Linked DNA regions of Homo sapiens: region 2 is linked to region 1. The links come from fine-mapping of genetic effects on gene expression. Tissue or cell type: whole blood. Region 1 holds a variant in brackets; the other region holds the start of a gene. All regions are shown on one strand. Distances are between the middles of the regions.

Region 1 (5,230 bases):
GAGGCTTAATAATTGACTGCTGGTTACAGTTGTGATTAAACTACATTTACCTAGTGGATCTACATGCAGTTCAGTTCTTCAAGTCCAAGTCCGTCTTAAAAATAACAATGAAAAACATTTCCCTTCCTATATTCATATCATTGTCTACAAATTTCTGGACGAGGAAATTACGAGTTTGCTACTAAAGTCGAGCTTTTTTCCTCTCTAGTTCCCAACTTTACCATGTCGTTTTCATAAATATTTTCTTTCAGATTTATTCCAACACAAGAAAATAATCTCTGTTACCCACACTTCTGATTTTTATTTAGGAGCATTTTTTTTTTCGTTTCATCCTCACAGTTTTCACAATTGCAATACTTTGGGTAAATATTTGATTTCATCACTTAAATTCTCATCACAAACATACATACATGTATGTATATATAGTATATATATCTATATTTCTGTCTCTATATACATCTGTCTATGTATGTATGTATGTATCTATCTATCTATCTATCTATCTATCTATCTATCTATCTATCTATCTATCTTTCTATACAGAGAGAGTCAGTCTTGCCCTGTCTCCCAGGCTGGAGTACAATGGTGCCATCAGCTCACTCTAACCTTGAACTCCTGGGTTTAAGGGATCCTCCTGCCTCAGCCTCCCAAGTAGCTGGACTACATATAAAATTTTTCAATGGCAGTATCACATCAGAAGGTTGTACCAGTGGCTTAGTAAATGGAGTCACATTAAATGTTTGCCTTAATTAGGATGGAATTGACATGTATAAAATATTCAATTCTATTTCTATATTTTCTATCTATATATAACATTCTGATACTCCAATTACTCAAGTTCTTCTGTTCCCACCCCAAGATTTGTGATTCACTTTTTTATGTCCTAGATCTTATGGTTACATTTATTCTTAAGTGGCTTATACTGTTTTTTTTGATAATTCCTCTAGAAGAGGAAGTCATTTTTTAAAAATTGAGACAGAGTCTCACACCGTTGCCCAGGCTAGAGTGCAGTAGTATGATCTTGGCTCACTGCAACCTCCGCCTCCCAGACTCAAGGGATTCTCCCACTTCAGTAGCTGGGACTACAGGCACTCGCCACCATGCCCAGCTAATTTTTGTATTTTTTGTAGAAATGAGGTTTCACCATGTTGCCCAGGCTGGTCTTGAACTCCTGAGCCCAAGTGATCCACCTGATGCATTACCTGCCTCGGACTCCAAAGTGCTAGGATTACAGGCGTGAGCGACTGCTCCTAGCCAAGCGTTTCTTAAATCCAAATATTTGCTGGAGTATGCGTACCTAATGCATGTATGAAGGCCTATCCCTCTGAGAGTCTGGGTTGATAGATTTGGAGTACAATCCCTGCAGAGTGTTGATAAAATTCTCTATGGAATGCTGTTGTGACATACTTGGTAACTCACAGCCCTAATATATGCTAAAATGGATGGAATTTTGTGAGAAACAAGAAAATATCTTCTAGTAGTGATGATTTTTTGTAACAAATATATGAAATATCTGTATGTAATACAGGATTTAAACACAAGGTATTGTTAGAATTCTAGGTTGTGTGAAGTTACATGTCAAGATGTTACTGAAATGCCAAGGGTTCAGTCTAGGTCCCGTTGCTTGCCACACAGAAAGACAATCACTGAGACAATGAGTATTGCGAGAGAAGAAAGGCTTTTTTGGGTAACATCAGGTGGGAGAGGAAAATAAATATCAAATCTGTCTCCCCACAACCGACTAAAATTGGTGGCTTATATAACAGGCAAGGAATATAAAACAGGAATTAGGGAAGGGTAAGGAAGAGGAGTTGGCCAACAGGAATCAGGTGGTCGGTTAGGCAATCATGATGGATGAGGGGTCCACCATCGCATTGTCTAGATGCAGTGATCTGGTAAGTTTCAGTTCCTTGAACTATCTGGGAGGCCTGAATGGTTTCATGAGAAACGAACTCAGATAAAATGAATATAAGTTTCAAGCTTTAAGACTAGGAGAGTCAATTTCTATATTTATTCAAAAAGACTGTTAACATCATTTCTGTGGGGAAATCCAGCCAGTTTAAAAAATGATCAGCAAAGATAGGGAATATGGTAGAAATGTAAAGGAAATAGAGGTTAAAGTGATATATAGAGCATAGGGAATGATGGCATGATATGTAAAAGGCATGTCTAAATTTTGAATAAACATAATGAAGGGCAGAGAATGAAGGGATTAAATGGAAAATTTGTCAGGCCATGAGGGAGAATGCCAAAAGATTTGGTCCGAAGCCAACCATATGAAAGCCAATGTTAGAAGGTGTCTGTAGGGGAAGTAGTAGAATAGAAATGTGGATAAGTGGGGTAATCATAGCAACATTAACTTTTATTGCCAGGCCGAGTGGATTTTGTGTTAGTAATTGAGGTAGCATGGTAGAGGGTAGGTTTCTTTTGTATTTTTCTAGCCTATGGGTAGTCTTATCTTTCACCCAGTGACAGCAATGATGCAATAATAAGGAACAGCCAGAGTTTCATATATAAATAAATATATAAATTATATATATATATCTTTTGAGATGGAATCTTGCTCTTTCACCCAGGCTAGAGTGCAATGGTGTGATCTCAGCTCACTGCAACCTCCACCTCCTGGGTTCAAGCAATTCTCCCACCCCAGCCTCCCTAGTAGCTGGGATTACAGGCGCCCACCACCATGCCCAGCTAATTTTTTGTATTTTTAGTAGAGATGGGGCTTCACCATGTTGGCCAGGTTGGTCTCGAACTCCAGACCTCAGGTGATCCACCC[G/A]CCTCAGCCTCCTAAAGTGCTGGGATTACAGGCGTGAACCACCACCTTACATTCTGGCTGGGGAAAACAAAATAAAAACACAAGGAAACTAAAAAATGAGGTAGCTGCAAATTATGAGAGAAAACACACACTGCCTATATCCAATCAGGGAAATAAGCAGACACACTTGTTTTAAACAAATATCTTGGGAGAGGCAAGTCAGAATGTCAGATTTCGACTTCAACGTATCTGTGACACTCTTAGATGGTCATCCTGTTTTTAAAATGCATCCCTTAGGGAGGTGGGGGGGTCAGCCCCCCGCCCGGCCAGCCGCCCCGTCCGGGAGATGAGGGGCGCCTCTGCCCAGCCGCCCCTACTGGGAAGTGAGGAGCCCCTCTGCCCGGCCAGCCGCCCCATCCGGGAGGGAGGTGGGGGGGTCAGCCCCCCGCCCGGCCAGCCGCCCCGTCCGGGAGGGAGGTGGGGGGGTCAGCCCCCCGCCCGGCCAGCCGCCCCGTCCGGGAGGTGAGGGGCGCCTCTGCCTGGCCGCCCCTACTGGGAAGTGAGGAGCCCCTCTGCCCGGCCACCACCCCGTCTGGGAGGTGTACCTAACAGCTCATTGAGAACGGGCCATGATGACAATGGCGGTTTTGTGGAATAGAAAGGGGGGAAAGGTGGGGAAAAGATTGAGAAATCGGATGGTTGCGGTGTCTGTGTAGAAAGAGGTAGACATGGGAGACTTTTCATTTTGCTCTGTACTAAGAAAAATTCTTATCCTGTTGATCTGTGACCTTACCCCCAACCCTGTGCTCTCTGAAACATGTGCTGTGTCCACTCAGGGTTAAATGGATTAAGGGCGGTGCAAGATGTGCTTTGTTGAACAGATGCTTGAAGGCAGCATGCTCGTTAAGAGTCATCACCACTCCCTAATCTCAAGTACCCAGGGACACAAACACTGCAGAAGGCCGCAGGGTCCTCTGCCTAGGAAAACCAGAGACCTTTGTTCACTTGTTTATCTGCTGACCTTCCCTCCACTATTGTCCTATGACCCTGCCAAATCCCCCTCTGCGAGAAACACCCAAGAATGAACAATAAAAAAAAATAAAAATAAAAATAAAATGCATCCCTTTTCTTCATTCTGTATCATCAAACTAATTTTCCCAAAGCACCAATCTCACATTTAGAGAGAAACTTATTCTCAGTGTCCAACCTTTAGCCTCACTGTGGGCACATTCTCCTGTGCTTCTAAAGAAAGAGGGAAAGATGAGAAACAATGATCATTTGGAAAGTTTGCAACAGGCCAATGAACCATGTAGACCTCTCCAGAAGCAGATGTGCTTCTGAATAGGATAAGATGTGTTACTGAATGGGTGCTACTGCTGGTGCCCACATGTGTTGTCTGTCACCTTCAGTCACATTTGGCATGTAGTACCTACACAGATGTCAGATCTGAATTTTTCCCATTTCATTGTCCCTAATACACTGATCCCTTGTCATGTAACTAATAGCATCTTCTATAATTCTACAATTATGTCTTGGTTGGCATCACAAAAGGGGCCTAAGGGACCACCTTATTCCTTTTAAACCAAGACTCATGCCACCTTTACATATTTCTTAGAAAGGAGGATATATAATGGAGGAAGACAAGGCTCACCGATGAGTTCAAAACAAGGGGACGAAGAAAGTGAGGAATTAAGGTTTGCTCCTAAGTATTTTGCTTGAGTCAAGAGACTTTTTTTTTGAAAGATATATTTAACATTTTACATTATGTATATAATAGTCAAAAAGTCTTTTATCTCAGTCAATGAATATTTTATTTCAGTGAAAGGGTCTTATATATCGGGGACATCTGGCCTGGGATCTAGGAAACATGGAAGGAAATTAATCTGTAATAAAGTGTTAGTAATTAAGAGGTCAAGCTCTATGACTCAGTCTCCAAAGTCAACTTTCCTCAAGTCCTAATAACTTTTAGACGCCCCCAATATACAGACTATTTTCTTTTAGGCTCAACTTTCTTTACATAAGACATGTGAATCCACACGTCTATGCCTTCTACATTTTAGTGCAAGGATTAGTAAAAAGTAACTAATAGAGCGCTTTCCAGTTTGGTTAAAGGGAGTCCTTTAACCAAATATCATTTTAGATATCATTTCCAGTAGAAAAAAATCTCCTGGCTGAAGTTCATGGGTTTTAAGTTCTTTGTTTCCTGGGAGTTCACTATAAAAAGAGTCTTTTTTCAAATTATGATTTTTAGGTAGTTGTTTTATAAAGATGTCAGAAAAATTTAATATGTCTTCTTTTAGCATTATGGATTTATACTTTCCTGGGGATAGTTTCATGCATCTACCTGTTATTATCTCAATTAGGGAAAACTGATGTCTACCAAAAGGGGTGGATTTTAGGTTAAGGAAAACCAGTGGAAGGGCCCTTGGCCAAGACATGTGAAAAGCCTGGGTTAATTTTGCCAATTGAATT
Region 2 (5,230 bases), 24 kb before region 1:
ACTATCCCCCAACACAACACCCATAAAGAGTCTGTGCCTAGGAAGATTAGTAAAAGAGGAAGGCCTCTTTGCAGTTAAGATAAGAAGAGGGCATCTGTCTCCTGCTCATCCCTGGGAATGGAATGTCTCAGTTTAAAACCCAATTGTACATTCTATTTACTGAGATAGGAGAAAACTGCCTTATGGCTGGAGGTGAGACATGCTGGCAGCAATACTGCTCTATACTACACTGAGATGCTTGTGTAAAGTCAAACATAAATCTGGCCTACGTGCACATCAAGGCACAGCACCTTTCCTTATTTATGACACAGAGAACTTTGTTCACATATTTTCCTGCTGACCCTCTCCCCACCATTACCCTATAGTCCTGCCACATCCCCCTCACCGAGATGGTAGAGATAGTGATCAATGAATACTGAGGAAACTCAGAGACCAGTGCTGGCAGGAGTCCTTCGTATGCTGAGTGCTGGTCCCCTGGGCCCACTGTTCTTTCTCTATACTTTGTCAGTGTGTCTTATTTCTTTTCTCAGTCTCTCATCCCACCAGATGAGAAATACCCACAGGTGTGGAGAGGCTGGCCCCCTTCATAAGGTTGTTGAGATTTATCTATGTTGGTGCATGCATCTATGATTTGTTTTTTATTATTGTTCAGTAGTATTCCAGGGTATGATTACACTGCAATTTGCTTATACATTCATGTACTGATGGACACTTGGACTGTTTCCTGTTCAGGGTATTATGCATAAAGGTGCTAAGAACATTCTTGTGAGTCTTTGTGAGGACATATCATTTCATTACTGTTGTATAAGTATCTAGGAGTGGAATTCCTGAGTCATAAGATTCTTGCTTTTATTTTGCAATTCTCCTAAGGAGTCATATAGTTCTGTAAAGCTTTTCACTCTTCACAGATTTGATATTTTAAGTAACACGGTATGTTTCTGAAATGGAGTTTGCATTTTGGGGCATTTTCTATAGATGTATCATGAAGGACACGTGAAAACTCTGTTATAAATATAAACACTCCACTGCATGCAGGAATTTCCTTCTCATTCTTCCAATGGAATTGTCTTAATTTAGGTTGGATCAGAATTAGAATTTACGTTATGATGACTATGTAAATAATATTTATAGGTCAGTCAGGTAGTATCCTATGATTACTTTTCTTGCACAACTTTTTTTTTTCTTTTTTCTTTTTTTCCTCATGAAGGGGTTGCCAAGGCTGTGTAGTGCAGTGGCTATTGATAGGTGCGATCATAGCTCACTGCAGCCTGGAACTCCTGGGCTCAAGCGATCTTCCTGCCTTGGTCTCCCCAGTAGCTGGGACTACACGTGTGCGCCATCGCGCCCGGGCTTGCACAACTTTTCATTCTCCCAGAGTCGCCTTATTTATTCCTTCCAGAATTTTAGGCACTTGGTTCTCCGAAAGCCCCGACGTTAAGATTGACTCCACCTACAGCAGAGGGAAGGCCCTTCTTCTCTCTTAAGGAAAATTCCCGCCTCCCGCATTGGATTCCTTTTCCGGTTGGCTGGTGGCTGCTCTCTTTACCTGCACTGGGCGGTGACCGTGTCCCTCAAATGTAAATGAGGTTCCAGGGGTCGCTGTTTTTTCACTTTCCGTTGACGGGGTGAACAATATCCTCGTACCTCGATTGCCTCTCCACACCCTTTTGGTCCTCAAAAATCTTCCTCTTGTCCTCCACATGTAGCTAGATGCGTTTTCGCGGTATATGACTCAGGGTGCGATTGCTCTTTTTCCTCTGTGGAGAAAGCGTTTTCACTTGTACGGACACCTAAGTGTTAAGATGGCCGCGCCCATTGTGTCATTCCCGTCATTCTTTGTGCAAAGCGGATGACTTTTCTCCCCAGCCCGCTAAGGTGCACGTAGCCATACCATGTTTGTCTTGGCTAAGCTCGACCCTCTGAAAATAAATGAAACTTGGGCGCAGGATTTAGGTGCCAAAATATGGAGTTCTTCACCGTCCCGCGCTATCCCTGAATACTTGGGCAGAAAAGGTCCACTTTACCTTCCGTACGTGCAGGATTCAAAGATGGCTGCCTCCAGTATCCGTGACGAGAGGACGCGAACTTACTACCTCCCAGTCGTCCGTGCTCCGTACACCTGCAACTTCAGACCTTCCTCGGCCGCCGTAGGCCGGCTTGGAGGCTGGGGGAGGGCCCAGAAGTGGAATAATTCAGGAAAGTGCAGGTTCTGGGAAGTCTCGGTGGGTTCCCCGCAAAATCAGGTCTGTGTGTGGGTCTGTCTGTCAGGATGAGGGGAGGAGGGTGTCTGTGGGCGTCCGTTTAGTGCGGAGCCGTGGAGTTTGTGGGGGAAGCGGGAGCAAGTGGGAGTCGGGGTATTGGGGTTGGGGCGTCTCCGGAGTCAGCCCTGAGGGATCCCAGTGGTCGGTGGTCAGAGTCTGTCCAGAGCAACACTTGGAAGTCCGTGATCAGGGTTTGGTGCCTTTGCGGGTCACTCTGTAGGGCTCGGTGATTGAGGACTGGAGTGAGGAGTGGTTTTTGTCAAGGAAAACTGTGTCTGCTTCGGATTCGGGGTTTTATTTTTTATTTTTGAGACAGGGTCTCGCTCTGTCACACAGGCTTGAGTGCAGTGGCGCAATCGTGGCTCACTGCAGCCTCCATCTCCCGGGGCTCAGGTGATTTTCCCACCTCAGCTTTCCCGAGTAGCTGGGACTACAGGTGAGCGCCACCACGCTATCTATCTATCTATCTATCTATCTAATCTGTCTAATCTAATCTATCTATCTATCTATCTATCTATCTAATTTATCTATCTAATCTATCTGTTTATTGCAGAGACGGGGGTCTCACTATGTTGCCCAGGCTGGTCTCCAACTCCTGGCCTCAAACGATCCTCTCACCTTGGCCTCCCAAAGTGCTGGGATTACGGGCGTGAGCCTTCGCTCCAGGCTGTAATCAGGATTTAATATGCGACTCAGTGAGGAGGAGCCCGGGTTCATGTGAACCTAGGTGTGTGGTCCAGGTTTTTGGATTAATCTAAGGGGGTGTGACCATGTTAGGGAGGTCTAGATGTGACAGTCGTGGAGAAGCTTGTGAAGGCTGAAGCCTTGGCAGCCAGGGCATCCTGATTGGTGTGTGTGTTCAGGTCCAACGGTACATTCCCTCTCAGTCCCTTTTAAGTTTCTCTGCAAGGACTGGTTTACAAATCTCATTTGACTTCTCACATCTCTCCTTTCTCTCATCCTGGTAAATAGGAAAGCTTTGGGGAAGATCAAAGATTAATCAAATCTAAAATGGTAAGGTGGCCTGGCGCGGTGGCTCACGCCTATATTCCCAGCATTTGGGAGGCCAAAGTGGGCGAATTGCTCGAGCCTAGAAGTTGGAGATCAGCCTGAACAACATAGCCTGTCTCTCCAAAAAATACAAATATTAACTGGGTGTGGTAACACACGCCTGTAGTCTCAGCTACTCGGGAGGCTGAGGTGGGACGATCACGTGACCCCGGGAGTTCTAGGCTGCAGTGAACTATGATTGAGCACTGCACTCCAGCCTGGGCAACAGAGTGAGACCCTGCCTCAAAAAAAAAAAAAAAAGAAAAGAAAAGGAGAAAAGAAAAAGGAAAAAACAAAACGAAGAAAATGATAAGGTTTCTATTAAAGATTTTCGTTCTTCTTCCTCAGGTTTACTGTGTGAATGTGTGTATACACACACGTAAATATTTTCTTTCAGGTTCTGACACAAGTAAAACATCTCTCTTATCCCAAAATGTGTTCCCCAGTAATGACTTTTGATAAGATTTTTGTATATTTCAATTTCAGTTTTCTATGCTTGATTTTCACAATGCAGATAAGCTGCTGAAACATTGGTATAATTTGCCGTATTTAATTTTACATTATGAACGTTCTTATAGTAAACATATCATCCATGTTTTTGTTTAAAAATTTTTTTTTAAGATTTCTGTAATAGTATACCATCAAGAGGCAAAACTGCACCACTGTGACTTGAATCACTAAGTGTATGGATATATTTAGATAGAATTTTAAGACTTAAAAAGTTCACTTATCACTTTTAAGAATGGGTTACAATTCTATGTTTACCCAAACATGTTTCTCCCTGACCCTCATCAGCACCTTAGTTTTTAATTTTTTTGCAATTGTAAATGGTGTGTTTTTAATTTTGACCTTTCTGTTCTCTTCTAATTTACTCTTACATAGAAGAGCAATTAGTTTAGAAAATATTTACATTGTTTTTGGTCACCTTACTGAACAAACTTCCCTGTTCTCCAGGTTACAAAAACTTTCAAACATATAACATGATTTAAAGAACTTTACAATTGAATACCTGTTTGCCTACCATCTGGATTTTATCATCATTTTATTGTGTTTCTTTTATTACATATCTATCTATATATCATCCTTCTACTCATCATTAATCCACCTTTTTTTCTTTTTATAGAGATGGCATCTCACTATGTTGCCCAGGCTGATCTTGAACTCCTGACCTCAAGTGATCCTCTCTCCTTGGCCTCCTAAAGTGCTGGGATTCCAGGTGTGAGCCACTTCACCCAGCCACATTTATCCATCTTGTAAAATATTGCTTTGTTTTTTGGTGCATTTCAAAGTAAGTTGCAGACATTCATACATTTGCCCCTGAATATTTCAGTAGGTTTATCATAATTAAGTTCTACTGACAGCTTTTCCTAATTACAGGTCTATTAGTCCCATACTGTATAATTCAGTGGCTTTTACTATGTGCGGCCATCACCAAAGTCAACTTTAGAACATTTTCATCACTTAAAAAGAAACCCTGTACCCTTTTGTTACCACTCCCTATGCCCTACCACTAAGTAATCTCTAATCTACTTTCTGTCTCTATAGATTTGCTTATTTTGACCTTTCTGTTTTCTTCTAATTTACTCTTATTTCATTTCATGTAAACGCTACAATATAATATGTGATCTTTTGTGACTGGTTTCTTTCACATAGCATAATTTTTTTTTTTTTGAGACAGAGTCTTACTCTGTCACCCAGGCTAGAATGCAGTGGCGTGATCTCAGCTCACTGCAACCACCACCTCCCAAGTTCAAGTGATTCTCCTGCCTCAGCCTCCCAAGTAGCTGAGATTACAGGTGCCTGCTACCATGCATGGCTAATTTTTGTATTTTTGGTAGAGACGGGGTTTTGCCACGTTGGCCAGGCTGGTCTCAAACTCCTGACCTCAGCTGATCCGCCCACCTCAGCCTCCCAAAGTG

Evidence for each region. PIP is the estimated chance that this variant, and not a neighbour inherited with it, causes the effect.
Region 2: ZNF613 starts here. The variant in region 1 is the best candidate, but not a certain one, in a credible set for the expression of ZNF613 in whole blood (TOPMed, PIP 0.68).

What each region holds. Positions count from the first base shown.
Region 1 is chr19:51,949,787-51,955,016 of GRCh38, forward strand. The region is part of intron 1 of ZNF350-AS1 (ZNF350 antisense RNA 1); the gene reads left to right. Among named protein-coding and RNA genes, the nearest start is that of ZNF350-AS1, 3.3 kb to the left of the region's middle. The variant G/A (reference allele first, on the strand shown) is at 2,780.
Region 2 is chr19:51,925,298-51,930,527 of GRCh38, forward strand. It overlaps ZNF613 (zinc finger protein 613), which reads left to right and starts at 2,175. Exons shown (of 6, transcript NM_001031721.4): 1 at 2,175-2,243; 2 at 4,435-4,599. RefSeq lists enhancers at 1,195-1,958, 1,814-2,113.